Linked DNA regions of Homo sapiens. The protein of the gene in region 3 interacts with the protein of the main gene of each other region in a pairwise test. Each region holds a gene or a part of one and is shown on either strand. Other genes may lie near its edges.

What was found.
Region 1: the proteins of MAPK7 (region 3) and BAG2 interact in binary tests that used the Homo sapiens proteins (3 or more experiments, as listed by UniProt).
Region 2: the proteins of MAPK7 (region 3) and MEF2A interact in binary tests that used the Homo sapiens proteins (3 or more experiments, as listed by UniProt).

What each region holds. Positions count from the first base shown.
Region 1 is NC_000006.12:57,167,757-57,175,425, forward strand, and holds the start of BAG2 (BAG family molecular chaperone regulator 2), read left to right. Parts: upstream 1-4,569; 5' UTR 4,570-4,941; coding exon 4,942-5,054; intron 5,055-5,113; exon of another isoform or gene 5,114-5,705; intron 5,706-6,446; exon of another isoform or gene 6,447-6,625; coding exon of another isoform or gene 6,626-6,639; intron 6,640-7,669. Other genes in the region: E3 SUMO-protein ligase ZNF451, read left to right, coding at 667-713. UniProt on the Homo sapiens protein: Co-chaperone for HSP70 and HSC70 chaperone proteins. Acts as a nucleotide-exchange factor (NEF) promoting the release of ADP from the HSP70 and HSC70 proteins thereby triggering client/substrate protein release.
Region 2 is NC_000015.10:99,673,969-99,681,077, forward strand, and holds part of MEF2A (myocyte-specific enhancer factor 2A), read left to right. Parts: intron 1-424; coding exon 425-644; intron 645-1,430; coding exon 1,431-1,490; intron 1,491-4,679; coding exon of another isoform or gene 4,680-4,783; exon of another isoform or gene 4,784-6,982; intron 6,983-7,109. UniProt on the Homo sapiens protein: Transcriptional activator which binds specifically to the MEF2 element, 5'-YTA[AT](4)TAR-3', found in numerous muscle-specific genes. Also involved in the activation of numerous growth factor- and stress-induced genes.
Region 3 is NC_000017.11:19,374,348-19,381,563, forward strand, and holds the start of MAPK7 (mitogen-activated protein kinase 7), read left to right. Parts: upstream 1-4,150; 5' UTR 4,151-4,283; exon of another isoform or gene 4,284-4,548; 5' UTR 4,549-4,553; coding exon 4,554-4,785; intron 4,786-5,434; coding exon 5,435-5,600; intron 5,601-6,136; coding exon of another isoform or gene 6,137-6,154; intron 6,155-6,260; coding exon 6,261-7,216. UniProt on the Homo sapiens protein: Plays a role in various cellular processes such as proliferation, differentiation and cell survival. The upstream activator of MAPK7 is the MAPK kinase MAP2K5.

The DNA.
Region 1 (7,669 bases), on a different chromosome or scaffold from region 3:
GGAGGAGATGGAACTCAACTATTGTGAACCCAATAACGTCTGTCTTGTTCACTATTACATTGCTGTTCCTGGTATATAATGGGCATTCAATAAATATTTGTCAAATGAGTTTACATACATCTGCATACAGCATATATTATATGCTTCTCAGATGACATTTATGTGGCTATGAGTTTCACTACCTTAGATGCTAGGATGCTTTAAGCTAATTTTTCCCCAGCTTTATTGAGGTATAATTAAAAATTAAACTAAATTTTTAATGGCCTGTGACATTTTGTCATTTCATGGAGTTGCCTTTCTGTTTAAAGTCTTATATGTATCACCTCAAGTCTTTTAGCAAATAAGTGATACAGATTTTTTTTTAAATGTTGAAACAAATGATTACCTGTCAGTGATTTTAAAAGTTTGTTGACTTTCTACATTCCTAAGTGGAATTAACTTGCAAGTTCTAAGTTCATATATAAAATTCAATTCAAGATCATGTCTAGATTTTCATATTTCAAAATACTCAATTTTTTAGTAGAGAAACTGCCAAGTTATCCTGTGTTTTTCCATTTTGATTTTACTTTCCTTCTTGAAAAGAATACAGTCGATGAAACTTAAATAAATACAGCACATGTTGAGTTTTCTGCCCTAAGTGTTAAAATTCTATGTTTTTTAATGCAGATGTGGAATTAGAAGAAGCTATTAGAAGAAGTCTTGAGGAAATGTAATTAAAGATATTACCACACAACATCAAGTGGCCTTGAAGAGACTGAGATAACGAATTCTTGAGTTTGTTTTCTAAAGGAGACCAGAAATCCACTATTACAAATGTATTTGAAAACATGTTTTTGCTTTCATATGTTCAAAATCTGATCTTTGTTTTGTATTTTTGTGCTAATGTGCAAACATGTACAGAAGAAATAGAATACATGTTCATGCAAATATAAATTATGTATTCTAATATAGGTGTAACAGTTTCCCAGTTAACTTTGAATTTATATATTTAGATTTAAAGGATTAAAAAAAAGGAAAGCTCTTGACAGTTGTTTCCCAAATAGCATTAGTTCTTTAATTTTATTTGTACTGTACAAATGATGCTAGTTTATTTTTTTAGCAGTGAAAATGAATATAAAAAAGGTGACATAGGTCAAGTTTTCCATAAATTCTACTTCTCATGTGGCACTATTATATAATACCTTTGAGATCTTTGTTTATGTTTATTAGAAGAGGGTAATGGAAACTGATCATGGAAACATTTAAAATTTTATCAGCAATGTTCTTTGTGGGTGCCATGCATATGTAAATTATTGCTTTAATTAGAGCAGCACATTGCTAAAATAAAAAATACACCTTAATTTTTAAGAAATAATTTAAATGAAACAATTTCCATTCCTTTTACCTGCTTAGACTTTTATGTGACTTGTATGGTCTCCTGGTTAAAGGGAATGGTGTCAGAATATTTGCATAAAATTATTTTTCATAACAGTCCTTTTTTATATATTGGTGTAAACATAATATTCTTCAAGAAATAATGTTGAAAGCCTACTCAGGAATAATCTTCCTTAACTCTTTAAATTTTTATTTCATGTGAAGTGTTTTCAGTTTAGTTATTCACTGAATTGTCAGTTTCCTTCATTTGGTATTACATATTTAATTCTTAAATATTGAGGCCCCATTGTGAGTAATAAAAAATACGACATAAGTAGAAGACTAAGAAGGGCTTGTCATATTATCTTTGTGTATATGCTTCATGTTATTTAACCAGAAATGTCTTATCTCTAAAAATTTTTAGTAGTAATTATTTACCAAACTTAAAAACATTTCTATAAATATAAAGCTTTTCTTTATATTTAAGACAAAATATAAAGGCTAGAATTTGGTTCCTTCTCTGTAACACTAAATATTTTAGTGTGAAATTGAATTTTTTTATTACTATAGTCTTTTCAATCTATAATTTGTGTTTTTAATTTCTTGATATGTCACTTCTGTTCCTCCCTGCTTGCATTTTTTAAAAACTAGACATTGTGGCTTGAGAATTTATCAATCATCTTTCCGAAATGACCACATTGTGCTTTTAGTTTGTATGTTTAAGTGGTCAAGCAAGGCTCTAGGAGGTAGTCACTGAGCTGGACCTTAAACACATCTGCAGGAGCTCACAAAATGGGAGCAAAAGAGGCATTCCAGAAAGAAGAGTAGTTAAGCAGATGTGGGGGCAGGGCAAGAGGAGACAGCACCTTGTTGCCAGAGATTCTACACAAAGGTGTGATGGACACTGATGCTCTATTAAGAAGCTTTTGTGGTGTGTGTGGTAGAGAATAATTAAGGCTTCTGATAAGACAGGAAAGGGATATTTCATCATGACTGTTAAGAAAAGGTAACTGGGTTGTTTAATGTTTTAATTGATAATTGTCACTGATCGTATTTCTACTTGTTAAATAATTAAAAATCATCTTAAAATTCATACTTTGACTTTAATTTAGACACAAGGAGATGTAATCGCTGTGTAACATCAGAGAAAGCTATATGGATTATCGTCAGAAGTAAATGTTTCTAACATTGACAAAGATGCTTATCTTTTCATTACATCATTCACTCATTAATTCATTCAATCACAAAATATTGAGTACCCACCATGTGCCAGCAACTGTTCTAAGCACTTGGAATATACCAGTAAGCAAAACAAAGCCCTTACCCCTCTGTGGAGCACATATTGGTGGAGAGGAGGGGATTGTACAATGTTAGTAAGCAAGGCAATAAAACTGCATATCTGATGGTGATACGTGTAACGACGGAAAATAAAGAAGGGAAGGGAATAAATAGTGCAGGGACAGGGAGTTGGGGGGAGGCTTGCTATTTTTAATAGGGTTGTCAGAAAAGATCTCACTGATAGGTAAACTTGAGCAAAGACCTGAAGAAGGTGAGGGAATGAGGATGAAAATACATATCGGGAAGAGAGTTCCAGGTGGAGGAGGTTAAGGTCCAGACAGGAGCTTAGTATATTCAAGGAAAAGCAAGAAGACTAGTATGGCTGACAGGATGAGCTAGGAGAGTAATAGGAAATGAACTTACTGAGGTTTTTCTAATGACCTGGGCTTTTACTTTGAGGTAAGGAGCCAGTGAAGGTTTCTGAGAATAAATGGTATGATCTGCCTTATTTAGGATTGCTGTAGTTGCTGCACTGAGATAACATGTACATGAGAGGCAAGAGTAGAAGCAGGGAGACCAGAGAGGAAGGTATTGTAGTATTCCAGGTGCAAACTCACCAGGTAGCTTGAACCAGAATGGTGGCGGTAGAATTGGGAAGAATCTGGATATATTCTGAAGGCAAAATTGATGGGGTTTACTAATGGTGTGGATCTAGGATAAGAGAGAAAAAGAGTTCAGGATGATTCTAAAGTCACTTGATAGACTTTCAAACCACTCACAAAATGTGTTTTGTTTTCGTTTGTGTCATGATAAAGTTATTTTTAATAAGGTCAAATAATCCCCTACCCCAAGAGTTAATTAGGATTTAAAATGAGTTCAGAGGGAATTGGGATCCAGCCTTAAGGGCTTCAACTCTGTTCAAGTATTTAAATGGCTTTGATCTCTGATTAAAGGTGGTGGCTCAGCTTTAAACTATTATTATCTATCATTTTCTGTGCCCTGTACATTGTCATCCTTGCAATGAGAGGCATAGAGCTATCAGGAGAGGGGACTAAAGCCTAACTTTTTAAGTAGACTAATCTTTGTATCCTCAGCTCTATTCCGTCTTTTACCGACAGCTGGTGCCTGACCTAGAGGCCTACTGCATCTTTTTTGTTAACAGGATTTTTAAAAGTTGAGGACTTTTTAATGCCAATTATTTCACTCAGAATATTTATTTATTTATTTATTTTTTTGAGACAAGGTCTCGCTCTATCGCCCAGGCTGGAGTGCAGTGGCGAGATCTCGGCTCGCTCAACAGGAATAATTTTAATAGCAAAAATTTAAAACCCCTTCATTAAGCCAGGCGTGGTGGTTCACATCTGTAATCCCAGCACTTTGGGAGGCTGAGGTGGGAGGACCGCTTGAACCCGGGAGGTCGAGGCTGCAGTAAGTCGTGATCGCGCCACTACACTCCAACGTGGGCGACAGTTAGACCCCATCTCAAAAACAAAAGAAAATTAGAATGGTAAAAATGAAGTAAATTCACTTTGCTTCCCACATCTAGCTAGACAGGGAAAGATGGAGTAGCTTTTTCTTTTTTACTTCATAGCTTCAGTGTTGTCCGGGCTTTCATTACTCTCATCTCAGTATAAAGTGGTAACAGGAAGGTCAGGTGAGTGTGGGCTGCCTACGAGCTGTACTTACTGCCTTCTGTTTCACAAAAGGACGTTTTCTCCCCATAATGTCGTTGTTCTTGCTTTGAATTATGGGTGCTGGGAGAAACTAAACGAAGCCGTCACTGAGCAATACACCCACAGCCCGTCGACCGATAGGAACCTTCGCGTGGGGGGAGTTGGTTACTTTTAGGTTGCATGAAGAGGCGGGGCCTCGCGGGGCGGAGCTGGGGGTGGTCTGTGGGTCCGCGCGGGCTTCGGGTAGTTCCTGGGTCCGGGGAGCAGACGATCCGCTAGCCACATTAGGCGCTCGGTCTCTGCGTCCGCCCCTCCCGTGCCTCAGAGACTTGCGCTCCCCAGGCCCGAGCCCCTGTCGGCCCATCCTCGAGCCCGTGTGGCTCGCGAACCTCTAACTCCAGCCGCTGCAGCCCCCTCCCAGGCCCGGCGTCCCCGAGCCCCGCGGGCGCCGCGCCTGCCCTTCTTTGGCTACGCTGCAGCCGCGGTGTCGGCGAGTCCTCCCGGGTTGCCCCCGCGGGCGTCAGAGGGAGGGCGGGCGCCCGCGTGGTGACGGCGACGCCTGCAGCCCAAGGAGCGCTCCACTCGCTGCCGCCGGAGGGGCCGGTGACCTCTTGGCTACCCCGCGTCGGAGGCTTAGATGGCTCAGGCGAAGATCAACGCTAAAGCCAACGAGGGGCGCTTCTGCCGCTCCTCCTCCATGGCTGACCGCTCCAGCCGCCTGCTGGAGAGCCTGGACCAGCTGGAGCTCAGGTGAGCTCCGGGCGGGCGGTCTCGGGCGTTCTGCTCGCCGCGCGGGCGGTTCGCGGGCGGTTAGCGGACGGAGGCCGCGTGTGGCGGGCCGGGGCCTGGGGCACAGTGAGGCTGCGGCAACCGAAGTTGCTTGTTGAGATTTGTTGTGGATGGACGTGGTGTAGTTTTGTTTGTTTCTTGGATTATCTCCCCTAGTCCGAGAGAAAACGCATTCGATTTAAGCTAAACCTGTGAGGGCGTTATCGGTGGCCACACTTTGATTAATTTACCTAGGTGTTAGGGAGCGGAAAAAAATCAGAGGAGATAAAAGTTACAGTGAGATTCCATGCGATTAAGGACTGTGGCAGCTTGGGTCTGCAGAACTTCTAGAACCTTCTGTGTGGCCCCAAACGTTTTAACTTACTCTTCTCGTTATGCATTTTTTAAGGGAGGCAGCAGTTTACAGTGGCCCTCCACGTGAAGTTAAGTTTCCTTGCTTCAGAACAAAAATGAATAAAACAAAACCAACCCAGCAATCCATTGAGAGCAAAGATTAGACAGGAGTGAGGGGTAGGCAGTAAGTTACCGGGTGCTTCGTGCAGCAGAGACGTTGCCGCTTCTGTTTCTCCCCTAACCTCGCGGACGGGATTCAGCGGTTCCGTTCGTCTCTCGGTATTTATTGGGCACCTCCCTACATAGAAGACTAAGTGCTAGTTACTGGCCTGAAAGCATGAAAAGATAGTTTTCCCCTTTTCTTGCTTAAGAATTTATTTGGTAATACAGTAGTAGACTTGTATAGAATTTCTAAACAATTTAATGTTAATAGATTTTTGGAAAGACTTTAACGGTGTATTGAAAAGTTTTATCTACTTCCTGTGAACGTTTGTCTCAAGTTACTGTGTAAATTTTGTGAGCAGGTGTAGTTAAAAGAAAATCTTGTTAGGCACCTGCAATTCCGTGAAACTGTACACAGGAGTTGGTTACATAGTTTTGTCTAGGTTGTGCATGAGCAAAGAAGCATGTGAGCCAAAAAGTTTAGGAAACACTGCATGTGTGTCTTTATCTTCCTACATTAATACACCCAAACATGAAGTATCTGTTTGCTGAGAAAATACTTCAATAACCACGGTATCTCTTAACAAGTGAGGCATTATTATTGTTACTATTGGGAGAAAAGAGCCAGAGAGTGAGAGATTCTCCACTCAAAATAATTTCTTGGATTATTAAGCCCTACACCAGGTTCTGGGGTTCCACTCAGAATGAGGCAAGTGGAAGAGAGAAGTAATGCTTCCTCATGGATTTTCACAATACTGGCAAACCTGACCGTTCCACTCCCAGAAAAAGTAGAGCGAAAGTAGAAATTGGTGGCCTCAGTTACTTGAAGTCCCTCTAACTGGTAATGTTTCTTTTTAGGGAGCCACATAACAAGTAACACACATCTCTCCATGTCTTCAGAACGTTGAGGGCATGTTCTCAACCACTTCATTCTCCTCTCCCTTAGCCAGAAAGAAAAGTTTTCCTAAAGGAATGGGGAGGTTGTTACTCCACTCCGCCTTCCTTCAAGCTGAGTCATTGTCCTCCAACTTGAATTAATGCCTCACATGTGGTAGGTACAAAAGCACTCTGAAGTGCTCCTCTTTAAAAGAAAGCCTCAGGTTTTGAATATTATTATATTCTACTGTTTGATTAATGTAAAATGAATTCTGATTGCACATCAGTGATTAAATTACAACTTGCTTAATTAACATTTGAGCTGAGGAGAAAAGTGATTAATATGTGGCTGTTCATTTCAAGGACTTTTTTTTAGTAATTCTGGACTTTTGTAGGCCTTTTTTCTTCTTTTTAAAAAAGTAATACTAGCTGAAAAGGAAGGATTTCCGAAGGTAAGCAAAAATAGAGAAAAATGCTAATGTAGATCCTATTAAAGTTTTTTTTGAAACCACATGGGCAATGGCACTGAACACTATTAAAAACTAGAATCATGCGTAGAAGATCGATTTTTAAAAGAAAACATGAAACTCATATGTAATTTTGCTCTAATAGTTTGATTTTGTTGACTAATAAAGTAGTGTAACTGTGTAGAATAAAACCTTATAGTTTGTACTTAGAAGTGTGCACTTAATGTTCCCTAACCACACTGATCCTGTCAATTGTGGAAGAAATTTCATACTTTATGACCTGGAGTATGAACTGATCTACATGATGTTTAAAATGTTTGGCAGCAGTTTTACAAACTGTTAAAGGATTTCCATTTATCTCTAATGGAATTTATCAATACAGTAGCCCTTTTTTTTGGACTGCATTTTGTCTTCTGTATTTCTTCCTTCTACAGAGGTGATTCCCTTTTCTCCGTTTTGACGATCAGTTCTAAATGGACTCTGAGTTTTGCATTCTTCAGTGGCTCAAACCATCTTGCTTACTATTGTTACTTTTTAACAATTATTGTAATTTGTAAAAAATACTATGATATTACGATTCTCTCTCTCTGTATATATACAACGTTTTCCTGGCTCATAACTCCCATAACCCTTGTTACAGTCTTATGTTATAGTTCCTGGCTCATAACTCCCATAACCCTTATTACAGTCTTACGTTATAATGTTGGGGTGCTTTAGGCCTCAGGAAAAAGAATCTCT
Region 2 (7,109 bases), on a different chromosome or scaffold from region 3:
CTTTTCTCCTTCCGTTATATTTGGGATCTCTCAGTAGAAATGTAATGTTATTAAGGTTTACATTGAAGTGCCAATTTATGCTTACTTGGTGACAGTGATATATTTTGTAATGTCTAAATATGACAACACTACTTGATTATCAGGTTTATCCTCTTAAATTTGTCTTTATGAATATTTGAAATATAGAATATAGACATTAGTATATATTAATGTATAAAGTTGAAATTGAAAAGGCTCATGTCAGTCATATTCATGTTCAAACATAATTCTAAAGAAAATAGCTTTAATCTGTAAATTGGTTAAGAACCTATCCCTATCCTCTACTTTTAGTAACTTGAGTTACCTTGCCAAATTAAAGTTCAAAAGTTACTTTGTAGATGAATACGAAACCAACAGTTTTTTCCTTCTTTTTCTTTATTTACAGCCTGGTCTGCCACCTCAGAACTTTTCAATGTCTGTCACAGTTCCAGTGACCAGCCCCAATGCTTTGTCCTACACTAACCCAGGGAGTTCACTGGTGTCCCCATCTTTGGCAGCCAGCTCAACGTTAACAGATTCAAGCATGCTCTCTCCACCTCAAACCACATTACATAGAAATGTGTCTCCTGGAGCTCCTCAGAGACCACCAAGTACTGGCAATGCAGGTATGTAGTGATACCTATTATGCTGGTTCTTTAATAAAGAGGGTGAAAAAATTCATTGCTAACATAAGCAGTTTCTTATTTTGCTATTCTTTTATTGCTTTGATGAGCAAGAATCACTGATACATAATTGGCCTCATTTTAAAGTATTTTTTTGAAAATCAATTGTGGGTGTAGCATTGTGTCATGCAAAGTAGAACAGTACTGAGAACCTGCCATTTATATGCTTTCCTTCTCATGGGAAAGCCATACTTTGACAGGCAGAAAATTTAGTTAGATATCAGAAGCAAGGATTTAAAGTAGAGTGTGAGCCATTCATGTTAGAAATATGGGTGATAGACTACCTGATTGGAGTTAGAGTATCTTTTACATCTCCTCCTGCCTGAATTACTTCATTAATTCAGCAAAATTTATGTTACATTTATTGTATTAGTCTATGAAATGCAGTGTCTCCTCTCTCTTAAGTCCTAGATTTAATTTAGTGATTTAATCATACTCCTTACACACTGCCCCCGTTTTTATCAGTATGTACTATTTTGGTATTGATGCAATACCACTATTTGGTATTGAAGGCGACATCAAGCTTGAAAGGTAAACTCATATATATGAGATATAATAACTACATCAGATTACATGTTAATGCCAACTTCAGACTGAGCTAGTTTTTATTTTTGTGTCTTTTTAGGATTAGAGTGAGAGTTATCTCTATTCAGTTCACGTTCAGTTAGGTAAAGAGAGCTAATTCATATTCATTCTCTGCCCTCTGTCTTCTCTCCGTAACGTTGTTAGGTGGGATGTTGAGCACTACAGACCTCACAGTGCCAAATGGAGCTGGAAGCAGTCCAGTGGGTGAGTGAATTCCTACTCTTCTGTTTTGTAGGTATCTATCCTATATGAGATCAAAGGAATGTTGTTCCTGAAATAAAGCTTTCTGGGAAATTTCCTTCTGAAGGGTACTTTCACTAATACATCAAGATAATTTCTTAAGGGGAGACTTTCTCTAACTTCCCTGCTTACCAAAGTTAGACTGTTACCAAACTACTCTATCTTACAACAGCATGAAATGTTTTCAGAGAGACTAGAATGAAAAGAAATGGTGGGTCTATCTACTTCTACAGATAGAAAGATAATTAACATATTTGTCTTGGCCGGGCGTCGTGGCTCACACCTGTAATCCCAGCACTTTGGGAGGACGAGGTGGGCAGATTGCCTGAGCTGAAGAGTTTGTGACCAGCCTGGGCAACACTGTGAAACCCTGTCTCTACTAAAATACAAAAAAATTTAGCTGGGCGTGGCAGTGTGCACCTGTAGTCCCAGCTATTCGGGAGGCCGAGGGAGGAGAATTGCTTGAATCCGGGAGGCGGTGGTTGCAGTGAGCTGAGATCGCATCACTGCACTCCAGCCTGGGCGATAGAGTGAGACTCCTTCTCAAAAAAAAAAAAATTATGGAGATGATTGAATGACTTAATAAAAATGATGAGGAAGAAATAAACAAACATCAATAAAGATATTATTAAGACAAGTTACAAAATATTTAATGACAAAGTAGGAATAAATGCCTAATTATATCTGCCACAGTATTAAATATTTTAATGGAATTAAACAGATAAGACCTATTGTGGAGTCTTACTTAACAGAAAACAATTAAATGTGGGAAAATACATAAAGGTTGTACCAGTTAAACACTAGGGCTGCTACTCTTGTATGTGTATTTCCAAATATTTATGGTTTTTTTTCAGCTCTTGTTTTAGTTGTTTGTATGCCTACATACTGTTTTTGTGTCCCTTTTTTTTTTTATTCCCCCAACAGAATAATAAGTTCAGGGCCCACCAAGAATTGTGAGAGCCTAATATGCTTCTCTCACATTGGGTTGACACCCCAAAAGGCTGGACTCTAGAAGTAAAGTAAACCAGAGATAAACAGTTCTTCTCAGTAGTGACATCTTACAGATGCATCATACAGTTTTGTTTTTTTTTTTTTGAGACGGAGTCTCGCTCTTGTCGCCCAGGCTGGAGTGCAGTGGCGCCATCTCCGCTCACTGCAAACTTCACCTCCCGGGTTCACGCCATTCTGCCTCAGCCTCCCGAGTAGCTGGGACTACAGGTGCCCGCCACCACGCCGGGCTAATTTTTTTGTATTTTTAGTAGAGACGGAGTTTCACCGTGTTAGCCAGGATGGTCTCAATCTCCCGACCTGGTGATCTGCCTGCCTTGACCTCCCAAAAGTTTGTTAAAATTAGATCGTAGTGATTAGAAATTAGATTTAGGGGTTCCAGAATGCCCGGAAAAGCAAATAGTCTCTGGAAGAATAAAATAAGCCTGGCCCACATGGCAAAACCCCATCTCTACTAAAAATACAAAAATTAGCCGGACGTGGTGGCAAGTGCCTGTAATCCCAGCTACTCAGGAGGCTGAGGCAGGAGCATCACTTGATCCCAGGAGGCGGAGGTTGCAGTGAGCCGAGATCATGCCACTGCACTCCAGCCTGTGCGACAAGAGCAAAACGCTGTCTCAAAAATAAATAAATAAATAAATAAATAAAATAAAACACCATCTCAGACCTTATTATTTCTAACTTGGCACATAAGCTGAACTAGGCACACACACAAATAAAGCAAATGAAAACTTGCAGAAATAAACAAACAATGGAATCAGCCTCCTGGGAACTCCAGAATTTGGAGTTACTAGGCACAGACTTTGACTTTAATATAACAGTGTTTACTGTGTTCAAGGGTATTTAAAAAACAAAAAGATTGAGAATTTTAGCAGAGAACTGAAATTTATTTAAAAAATGGAAATTTTAGAACAAAAAAACCCCGTAATGTTAAGAACTTAACAGATGGGCTTAAAAACAGATTGGACAAAGCAAATACAAGAATTAAGAAACTAAAAGATAAGATAGAAGAAAATTATCCAGAATTTTGGAGACACAAAGGGATGGAAAATTAAAAAGAAGACCCAGAGCATGCAATAAAAAGGACTAGCATACGTTAAATTGAAGTCCCAGGAAGCAAAGTCAGAGAAAATTGGGCAGAAGCAGTATTTGAAGAGATAATCACTGAGAATTTTCCAAAACTAACAACAACAAAAAAGCCACAAATTGGGAAGGCCTATAAAACTCAACGTGGAATACAGATAATGCTGTGCTTTATGAGAAATTTAAACCTTTATGAACAAAAGACTGGAGATGGTGAGCTAAACCTCCTTCTCAGGAAGTCAGAAAAGGACAGCAAATTAAACATAAAGTAGGTAGAACCAAATAACAAAGATACAAGCATTGAAATAGAAAATAGAAAATTTTCTATTTCAGGCATGGTGAAACAGATGATCTCATACGTGCTTTTGTGGTATTGTAAATCAGTAACAATCTTTCTGGAAAGGTTTTGGCAAGATGTTTCAGTGGTCATAAAAATACAAGTATTGATACTGAAATAGAAAAACAAATTGAATTAACAAAACAAATACTGATTATTTAAAAGACTAATAAAATGGAATGTTTTCACTAATATTCAATTCGAAATATTTTCTAATTTCCATTATATCTTTTTCTTTAACCCAACTTGTAAGTTATTTAGAATTATATTTCTTAATTTCAAATACATGGAGATTTTCCAGTTATCTTTGAGATATTATTTTCTAGCCAGATTGTTTTGTTACCAGAGAACTTACCTCTATATGATTAAGTTCTCTGAAATTTGCTGATACTTTTTTATAGGCCAGCATGTGCTCAATTTTTGTCTGTGTTGTGTACTGGAAAGGAATGTTTATTCTGTATTATAAGCATGGATTGCAAATTCTACTTGTTTTAAATACGTTTTATCTGTATATATGTCATAACTTACTGTATCAGCTCCAGTTTAGAAACTCGTGATAGGTCAGTTCCAGATAGTTTTGCGTTACCTTTAAACCATATCATTTTTACCAATATTGTCATTTTCAAATACGTAATTTGTTTATAGGCGAGTCTTCCATTTGCCTTGTTCGTATTTTAATTTTTGTTGCATCTTCTGCCTGCTTCCCTAAAATTGGAATACTTCAGGCCCATGTACTGCTAAAAGAAGAGGCATCCTTGAGACTTTTAAAGCACTGAACGAACTCAGGAAAGGCAAAGACTTCTTAAATAAGAAACCAAAGAAAGTCTAATGGAAAGACTGATTGATTTGCTTGTGTGAAAATTGGAAACTTTGTGAATCAAAAGCACTGTAAAGAGAGTAAAAAGGCAAGACAGAATGGGAGAATATATATAGTATGTATACAATCAATAGAGAGGTTTTTTTTTAAGAATACCTACAAATCAGTAAGAAAAAGAAAACTCGACTTTTGAAAATGTGCATGAGAACACATCACTTCACAAAAGAAATGTCTGATAAATGTGAAGAAATGCTCAGTCTCAGTAGTCATGGAAATGCAAAATTAAACCACAAAGAGAGAACACTGCACACCCACCAGAATTGCTAAGATGAAATAGATGGTATACCAAATATTGACAAAGCTATGAAAAAGCACAAACTCATACACTGGTAATGGGAGTACAAGTTGTTGCAACCATTTGGCATTATCTGCCTAAGCTGCAGATACGTGTATTGTGTGACCCAGCATTTTCACTCATCCTTATGTACTGTAGAGAAATGCATTTGTGCATCACGAGTACCAAGAGATATGTAAAAGAATGTGTACAACATTATGTTAAAGTCATTGTCTAGAAATAGTACAGATCTCTGTCAACAGTAGAATGGATAAATATAAGAGTACATTCATATGAAAGAATATTATACTGCAGTGAAAATGAAATCACAGCAGTTCTCAACATGGATGAATGTCACCAAACATTATGAATTAAAGAAGATAGATACATACTCAAGATTCTAACTATATAAAGTTTGAAAAGCAGGCCAAAAAAACTATAGTGTTTGGGATGCTTGTGTAGATAGATGGCAGAGCCATAAAGAAAAACCAAGAAATTACTGTAAAATTCACAATAGTGGTTACTTTGGGTAGGTGGGACTCTCGGAATATTTTAGGGGGCCCAATTATGGAAACTTCTGGGGTTCTGGCAGTATTCTTAATCTGAATGGTGGTTACGTGGATCTTCACTTTATGATAAATCCTTAACCTATACGTTTTTGTTTTGTACATTTTCTGTTTATGTGTTACATTAGCAAGAAAACAGTTTTGAAAATAAAAGAATACACTAGATATAATAATAAAGGAACTATAACAACAAATATAAAGGCACTTTTTAAATTATAAGAGAAAATAATGTACATTTTGTGGTATTTATACTATTCCAAAATTCAGAGAGAAAATGTATAGACACTCAACACTCACATTCATGCACAAACTAGAGGTAGCCTTTGAGTCTTTGGACATTGTTGTCTGCATGTGGCAGCTGGAACTCAGCACCCATCTTAAGATCATGAGACAAGTCAGTTTAAGATGACAGGTCAAAATGCCAAGGTTGATGAAGTGAAAAGCTGGTGGCCCTCAGTGTTGAGCTGCTGAAGCAGCTGAGTCTGGGACCACTCTTCCCCTAGTCTTTTTATGTGAGATAATACGTGTTGCTCATTCTCCAGAGGAAAAAAGCAAGATAAAATCCAAGCAACAGATAGGGGAATGTTTAGTAATGGGCATTTAATTGTACCAAAATACACAATTCAAAAAAGAAACCTAACTAGTATTTTAAAAACTGAAAAGGTTGTTCATCATTGGTAGTATTCATGAAATTCAAATTAAAATGACAAAAAAAAATACTACTCTTACTTACTAATTCCCAACTATTAGCACTTTTTATTGTGATATTCAGTGCTAATGAAGGCATGGTGAAACTGATGATCTCATGCATGCTTTTGTGGCATTGTAAATTAGTAACAATCTTTCTGGAAAGGTTTTGGCAAGAGGTTTTAGTTGTCATAAAAATGTTTATACCTCCAAGCCCACTAATCCCATTTTTGGGAATCTCTCCTGAAGAGGTAAGTTAGAATAAGCAAAGCTTCATTGCAACTTTATTTGTAGTAATGAATAATAGGAAGAAATCAACATATTCAACAATATGAAAATGAAGTAAATGAAATTTCAACTGAATTTCTTTTTAGTTGTGATTTAAAACGAGCAAAAAATATGAGCATGGAAAACAAAAAGGGAAAAATCCAAAGAGATTATAATACTTAAGATGGTGGGACTGTGTTTTTCACTCTTTTTCTAGTTTCAGTGATGCTGTATTAATACAGTTACCTCTACAGTCATAACATCTTTATTGTAGTAAATTAGAATATTTCTTTATTTATTACTTATAACTTGTTTTCCATTGTCATCTGTGCAAATAAAACTTGGCAGCTTTGTACATATTGTAATTTGTATAGATCTTTCATAGAGGTAATTTGCTTATTTGTTTATGATTTACTAGGTATATTTCTCTATGGGGAGTTTAATACTGGGTTTATACTATAGTTCAAATGACTTTGGGGACTTT
Region 3 (7,216 bases):
ATCAGGATTCTTATGGCAAATCTCCCCATTTTTGACAGGCAAATAATTCCAAGCTTTTAAAAAGCACCGTGTGAGTCATTCTCTCATACCACTGGTGGGTGTCTAAATCAGTATAATCTCTAAGGATAGAAATTTGACATTAGCTACTAAAATTGTAAGAACAATACTCTTTAACTTGACACTCCCACTTCTGGTATTCTTCCTGCATATACACTTGCTGTGTGCAAAATGATGTGTTCAAGAAAATTTATTGCAGCATTGTTTGCAATAGTGAAAAAACTGAACTCATCTAAATGTCTATCTAGGGGGTCTTGGTTAAATAGGTTATATTCGTAAAGGAATATCATGCAGCTGTAAAAATGAGTGCTTTTTTTTTAGATATGACAATAGCACAAGTGACAAAAGACAAAACAGATAACTGGACTTCATCAAAATTAAAAACTTTTGTGGAACAGAGGATGTTATCAAGAAAGTGAAAAGACGATCTGAGAAATGGAAGTAAATATCTGTAAATCATGGGAAGTAAATATCTGTAAATCATCTAATAAGGTAATATCTGTATCTGTAAATCATCTGATAAGGGACTTTTGTTTAGAATATATAAAGAACTCTGACAGCTCAACAATAAAAAGGCAAATAATCCAATTAAAAATGGACAGAGGGCTGATGCGGTGGCTCATGCCTGTAATCCCAGCACTTTGGGAGGCTGACGTAGGCCGATCACTTGAGCTCAGGAGTTCAAGACTAGCCTGGCCAACACAGTGAGACCCTGTCTCTGCTAAAAATACAAAAATTAGCTGAGTGCAATGATGTGTGCCTGTAGTCCTAGCTACTTGAGAGGCTGAGGCAGGAGAATCACTTGAGCTTGGGAGGCGGAGGCTGCAGTGAGCTGAGATCCTACCACCGCACTCTAGCCTGGGCTGGAGTGAAACCCTGTCTCAAAAAGAAAAAAAAAAAAGGTCAAAGGATTTGAATAGATATTGAACAGACATTTCCCCAAAGGAGACAAATGGCCAATAAACCGTGAAAACATCCTTAGTCATTAGGGAAATGCAAATCAAAACTACAATGACGTATCACTTCACACCCACTAGGATGGCTATAATTAAAAAATAATAATAATAATAAGGCTGGGTACTGTGGCTCATGCCTGTAATCCCAGCACTTTGGGAGGCTGAGGCAGGTGGATCACTTGAGGTCAGGAGTTCGAAACCAGCCTGACCATCTCTAATAAAAATATAAAAATTAGCTGGACATGGTGGTGGGGACCTGTAATCCCAACTACTCGGGAAGCTGAGGGAGAAGAATTGCTTGAACCTGGGGTGCAGATGTTGCAGTGAGCCGAGATCGTGCCAGTGCACTCCAGCCTGGGCGATAGAGTGAGACTCAGTATCAGAAAAAGAAAAGAGGTGTTGGTGAGGATGTGGAGAAATCGGAACTCTTAAATATTGCTGGTGAATTTGTAAAATGGTGCAACTGCTGGAGAAAACAGCTTGGCACTTTCTCAAGAAGTTAATAGTTTACCATGTGACCCAGCAATCCCACTCCCAAGAGAAAGGAAAACATGTCCACAAAAAAACTTGTAAACAAATGTTCTCAGAAGCATTATCATAATAGCCAAAAAGTTGAAACAACCCAAATGTTCATAAACTGATGGATAAACAAAATATGGTATATCTAAACAATGCAATATATTTGGCCATAAAAATTAGTGCTAATATGACAACATGAACTTTATGCTAAGTGAAATAAGCCAAACACAAAAGACTACACAGTGTGTGATTCCATTAGTATAGAGCATCCACAATACGCAAGTCCATAGAGACAGAAAGTAGTTCAGTGGTTGCAAGGGCTCTGGTGAAAGAGGAATGAGGAGTGACCGTTAATGGGTATAAACCAAAAATAAAATTAGAAGGCCCTTTGCAACCATCTGAATGGACTCCCTCCTTGGCCAGCACACCCTAAAATTTAACCTGAAAGACTGGTTCAGGCCACGATGGGAGGTGAGAGTTGGACATGCCTTATTATACCCCTCCAACATTAACATCAACACTGACCTTAAGTCTGATAAGAAATATTTGTCTATTCTCTCTATAGCCTGCTACTGGGAGGCTTCAACTGCATAATAAAACCTAGGTCTCCTGGCCAGGTGCAGTGGCTCACGCCTGTAATCCCAGCACTTTGGGAGGCCGGGAGCAGGGGGGCGTGGATGACTTGAGGTCAGGAGTTCGAGACCAGCCAGGCCAACAGGGTGAAACCCCATCTCTACTAAAATACAAAAAAAAAAAAAAAAAAAAAAAAAAAGCCGGGCTTGATGGCTCATGCCTGTGATCCCAGCTATTCGGGAGGCTGAGGCAGGAGACCAGGAGGGGGAGGTTGCAGTGAGCCGAGATCGCACCACTGCACTCCAGCCTGGGCAACAGAGTGAGACTCACTCTTCAAATAAAATAAAATAAAATAAAATAAAATAAAATAAAATAAAATAAAATAAACAACCAAAAAACCCTAGGTCTCCACAACCCCTTATCATAACCCAGATATTCCTTTCTATAGATAATAACTCTTGTAACCAACTGCCAATCAGGATATGTTTAAATCTACCTGTGACTTGGAAGCCCCTCCCCTTTGAGTTGTCCCGCCCTTCCAGAATAGACATTGAACAGACATTTCCCCAAAGGAGACAAATGGCCAATAAGCACATCAAATCAATGTCAATCTTGCATGTATTGACTTATGTATTATGTCTTCCTGAAATGTATAAAGGCTGACTATGCCCCGACCATCTTGGGCACATGTTGTAGGACCTCCTGAGGCTGTCACCACCATGTCCTTAACATTGGCAAAATAAACTTTCTAAATTGACTTGAGACTTGTCTCAGATACTTGGTTCACATAGGTTTCTTTTAGGGGCGATGAAAATGTTCCATAAACCACTCTACCTAAAATTAGGTAGTGATGATGGCTGCTCAACTGTGAATATACCAAAAAACACTGAATTGTACACTATAAAAGGATGAGTTTTATGGTATGTTATTAAAAGTTGTTTAAAAGTGAGGGACCCCTCCAGTTATTGATATGGAATGATCTTCAGGAAAAGAGCATAATATGCTACATTTTTGTACACCAAAGGGGAGGTAGGTACGAATATGCATACATATTGCTTTTTTCTAGAAGCCGCCTAGGAGTGAAACCAAAATTCTTCACTTCTTTTCGGCCCTACCTCGAGCTCCCTTTAGAAAACCTTTCCTTCCAGCTCACAGTATCCACCATGTCCACCTTCGCCTCCCGGCACTGAGCCTTAGAGGGGCGGTGCTCCATAAACATTTGCTACATGAATGAACGAATAAACTATCGGATTTTGGGGTGGGTCGGGACAGCTCGGTTCCAGCGAGGGCTCCGCCCACCCGCGGGCTCCGCAGAGGAGCAGAGGTTGGGCGGCCGCCTCGGTTAACTCCGCTGCAGCCCAAAGCACGGGAATCGCGGGACAGACAAACGAGCGGAGGGAAGATACCTAGAAGCCAGGAAACCGCGAGCTGCAGTCCAACTTGGCCGGAAGCTGCGGAGAGGCTCAGCCACCGGAAGTCAGTGGAGGGTTCGGCCGGACGCTCTAGAATCCCGGAGGACCGGGATCTCTGTGGTTGGCCGTGACGGGCACCCTCTACCGGGGATGACACATTCCCAGAGCTCCTGGGACCAAGCAAATGGCGGACACAATTCCCTGGGCGGAAGGGGACTTCGGGAGCCAGTAGCCAAGGTAACAGTCCCAGACCTGGGCATCTCAGGCCGGGCAGTTCCCCGAGCTCACGGGACTAGCTGTGATTGGCCGGATGAGGTTGAGAGCTTCATGGGGACGCGCGCGCTACGTGCAGGGGCGTTGCCTTCCATTCACTTGGCGCCCGACTGCCAGTGCGCATGCGTTTGAAGGCGGTGCAGGGCGGGGAGCACACCCCTGCGAAGTGCCGGGCACCCTTTGGGCGGCTCCCGCCGGCGAGCTGGACAGCGGCGCGCGCCAGGCGTGGCTTTCTCGGCCGGTGGGCTAGGATTGGACGCAGTAGGTAGAAGGGGCAGGACCCTCCGCAGCAGTAGCTCAGCGATTGGCCAGGAGCTGGAGGGAGCGTGGCCTTGGGAGGCGGGGCGGAGGGGGACGGACAGGGCAGCTCAAGACGCTGAGGTGGTGGCTGCGGCCTTTGAACAAGTAAGTGAGCCACCCTCGGAGACCCCCGCGCTGGGGACGGGAGGCCGGCGAGCCTCGGGACCTCTGAAAGCCTTGAGGAGGCGCGGGGGTGAGTGCGGCCCTGAGGAAACCCAGGTGCCCCGCCCCTCCCTTTCTTCCTGGCCCGCGCCTCGCCTACCCCTCCCCCGACCCTGGCGGGCCCCCGGCTCTGGGCCCGGACCCCTGGGGTAGCTAGTCTGCCACGAACCAGCCGCGCGCTTCTGCCCTTGTCGGTTTAGGAAACTGGGAAGTTCCCTGGTCCTGCTCCCCAGCCCGCAGAGGGGACACTGAGGCCCACGGTAGGTGGTCCTCTCCTCACCCGAGTCTCCACACAGACACCATGGCCGAGCCTCTGAAGGAGGAAGACGGCGAGGACGGCTCTGCGGAGCCCCCCGGGCCCGTGAAGGCCGAACCCGCCCACACCGCTGCCTCTGTAGCGGCCAAGAACCTGGCCCTGCTTAAAGCCCGCTCCTTCGATGTGACCTTTGACGTGGGCGACGAGTACGAGATCATCGAGACCATAGGCAACGGGGCCTATGGAGTGGTGTCCTCCGCCCGCCGCCGCCTCACCGGTGAGCTTCCTGAGCCGTCGCCTCCCAGATGTGGCAGCGTCGCAGGGAGTGGGAAACCGGCCTGTCCCAGACAGCCGGGAAGGAAAGCGGGGTGCGAGTTCTGGCTCCAGTCAACACACACTGACCAGGGCCTTCTGCCTGCCAGGCTCCGGGGAGGCTCGGTTCTCTGAAACTCCGGCCTGGTGGTTTTGCCATCCTGCCTGCCTACTTCCTCCTTAGGAAAATGATAGTCCCAGTTAGACCAGAATGGAGAGCCAGTCCTTCGTGTCTAAGAGAGAAATGTGTTCTGGAGCCAGACACTGGCATAAGGAACTGGTGGTGGGATGGGTGAGGTCTGAGATGGAGAGGGTGTAGGCATAAGAGGCTGAGCTACACCACTGGGCATCCGTGCAACCTCCAACAAGTTACTAAGCCATATTTCCTTCTCTTTAACGTTGACCTATTGGGACCTGCCCCGCAGGGGAGTTGTGAAGGTAACATTTAATAATGTAGGTAACATGCTTAGCACAGGGCTTGGCACATAGTAGGTACCCAATACTTGGTAGCTGTTGTCATTTGCATCCTAGAAGGGAGGTGTTGATAGGGGCTGAGTCGACTCTGCAGTTTCTCCAAGGTATCCTCTGGTATGTCCCTTTTCCCTGCTCCTCAGGCCAGCAGGTGGCCATCAAGAAGATCCCTAATGCTTTCGATGTGGTGACCAATGCCAAGCGGACCCTCAGGGAGCTGAAGATCCTCAAGCACTTTAAACACGACAACATCATCGCCATCAAGGACATCCTGAGGCCCACCGTGCCCTATGGCGAATTCAAATCTGTGTAAGAAGCGGGATGGGAGAGGGAGCCAGACTTGGGACTTTTCTGAAGGCTGCAACCATGTTGCCGAAGTTCTGGAAAGGCAGCTGAATCTAATCTGAAGCAGGCTGGGAAAATTCCCGCAGTTCTAGGACCAGTTCTTTAGAGTTTTGCCAGGGACAACTGTTATTCCTCAAGAAGTGTACAGATGATTTTACAGTTTTATAGAATCTTAGTATATAGGATGTCAAATGTAGGACATTCCTACTATGACCACACCCTCCTATTCCCATAGCAGACTTCACTAATCAATCACAGAACACTTTCCTACAGACAGTGGACAAGCCTGGTCAATTTTCATCATAGTTCTTCAAGCTGCCACTACCAAACAATGGAGATAGCCCCAAAAGGAAACCTATTGGCCAGCCCTGGTGTAGTCCAACCCCATCTTTTATCTGATGGGGAAACTAGGTCTGGAGACAAAAGTGATTTAACCAAGTTCATGGAAAAGTCGTAGAGAATCTAAAACGTGATGCTCTTCTTCCATACCATGCCGTCAGCCCCTATGGGGTCCCAGGGTAAGGCTGTTACCTGTCTGGAATCGGAAGGGTGTGGTGAGGATGGGGCTTGTCCCTGGAGTGTGATCAGGCCAACCCATGCTTCTCTCCTTCCTTCCCCTTCCAGCTACGTGGTCCTGGACCTGATGGAAAGCGACCTGCACCAGATCATCCACTCCTCACAGCCCCTCACACTGGAACACGTGCGCTACTTCCTGTACCAACTGCTGCGGGGCCTGAAGTACATGCACTCGGCTCAGGTCATCCACCGTGACCTGAAGCCCTCCAACCTATTGGTGAATGAGAACTGTGAGCTCAAGATTGGTGACTTTGGTATGGCTCGTGGCCTGTGCACCTCGCCCGCTGAACATCAGTACTTCATGACTGAGTATGTGGCCACGCGCTGGTACCGTGCGCCCGAGCTCATGCTCTCTTTGCATGAGTATACACAGGCTATTGACCTCTGGTCTGTGGGCTGCATCTTTGGTGAGATGCTGGCCCGGCGCCAGCTCTTCCCAGGCAAAAACTATGTACACCAGCTACAGCTCATCATGATGGTGCTGGGTACCCCATCACCAGCCGTGATTCAGGCTGTGGGGGCTGAGAGGGTGCGGGCCTATATCCAGAGCTTGCCACCACGCCAGCCTGTGCCCTGGGAGACAGTGTACCCAGGTGCCGACCGCCAGGCCCTATCACTGCTGGGTCGCATGCTGCGTTTTGAGCCCAGCGCTCGCATCTCAGCAGCTGCTGCCCTTCGCCACCCTTTCCTGGCCAAGTACCATGATCCTGATGATGAGCCTGACTGTGCCCCGCCCTTTGACTTTGCCTTTGACCGCGAAGCCCTCACTCGGGAGCGCATTAAGGAGGCCATTGTGGCTGAAATTGAGGACTTCCATGCAAGGCGTGAGGGCATCCGCCAACAGATCCGCTTCCAGCCTTCTCTACAGCCTGTGGCTAGTGAGCCTGGCTGTCCAGATGTTGAAATGCCCAGTCCCTGGGCTCCCAGTGGGGACTGTGCCATGGAGTCTCCACCACCAGCCCCGCCACCATGCCCCGGCCCTGCACCTGACACCATTGATCTGA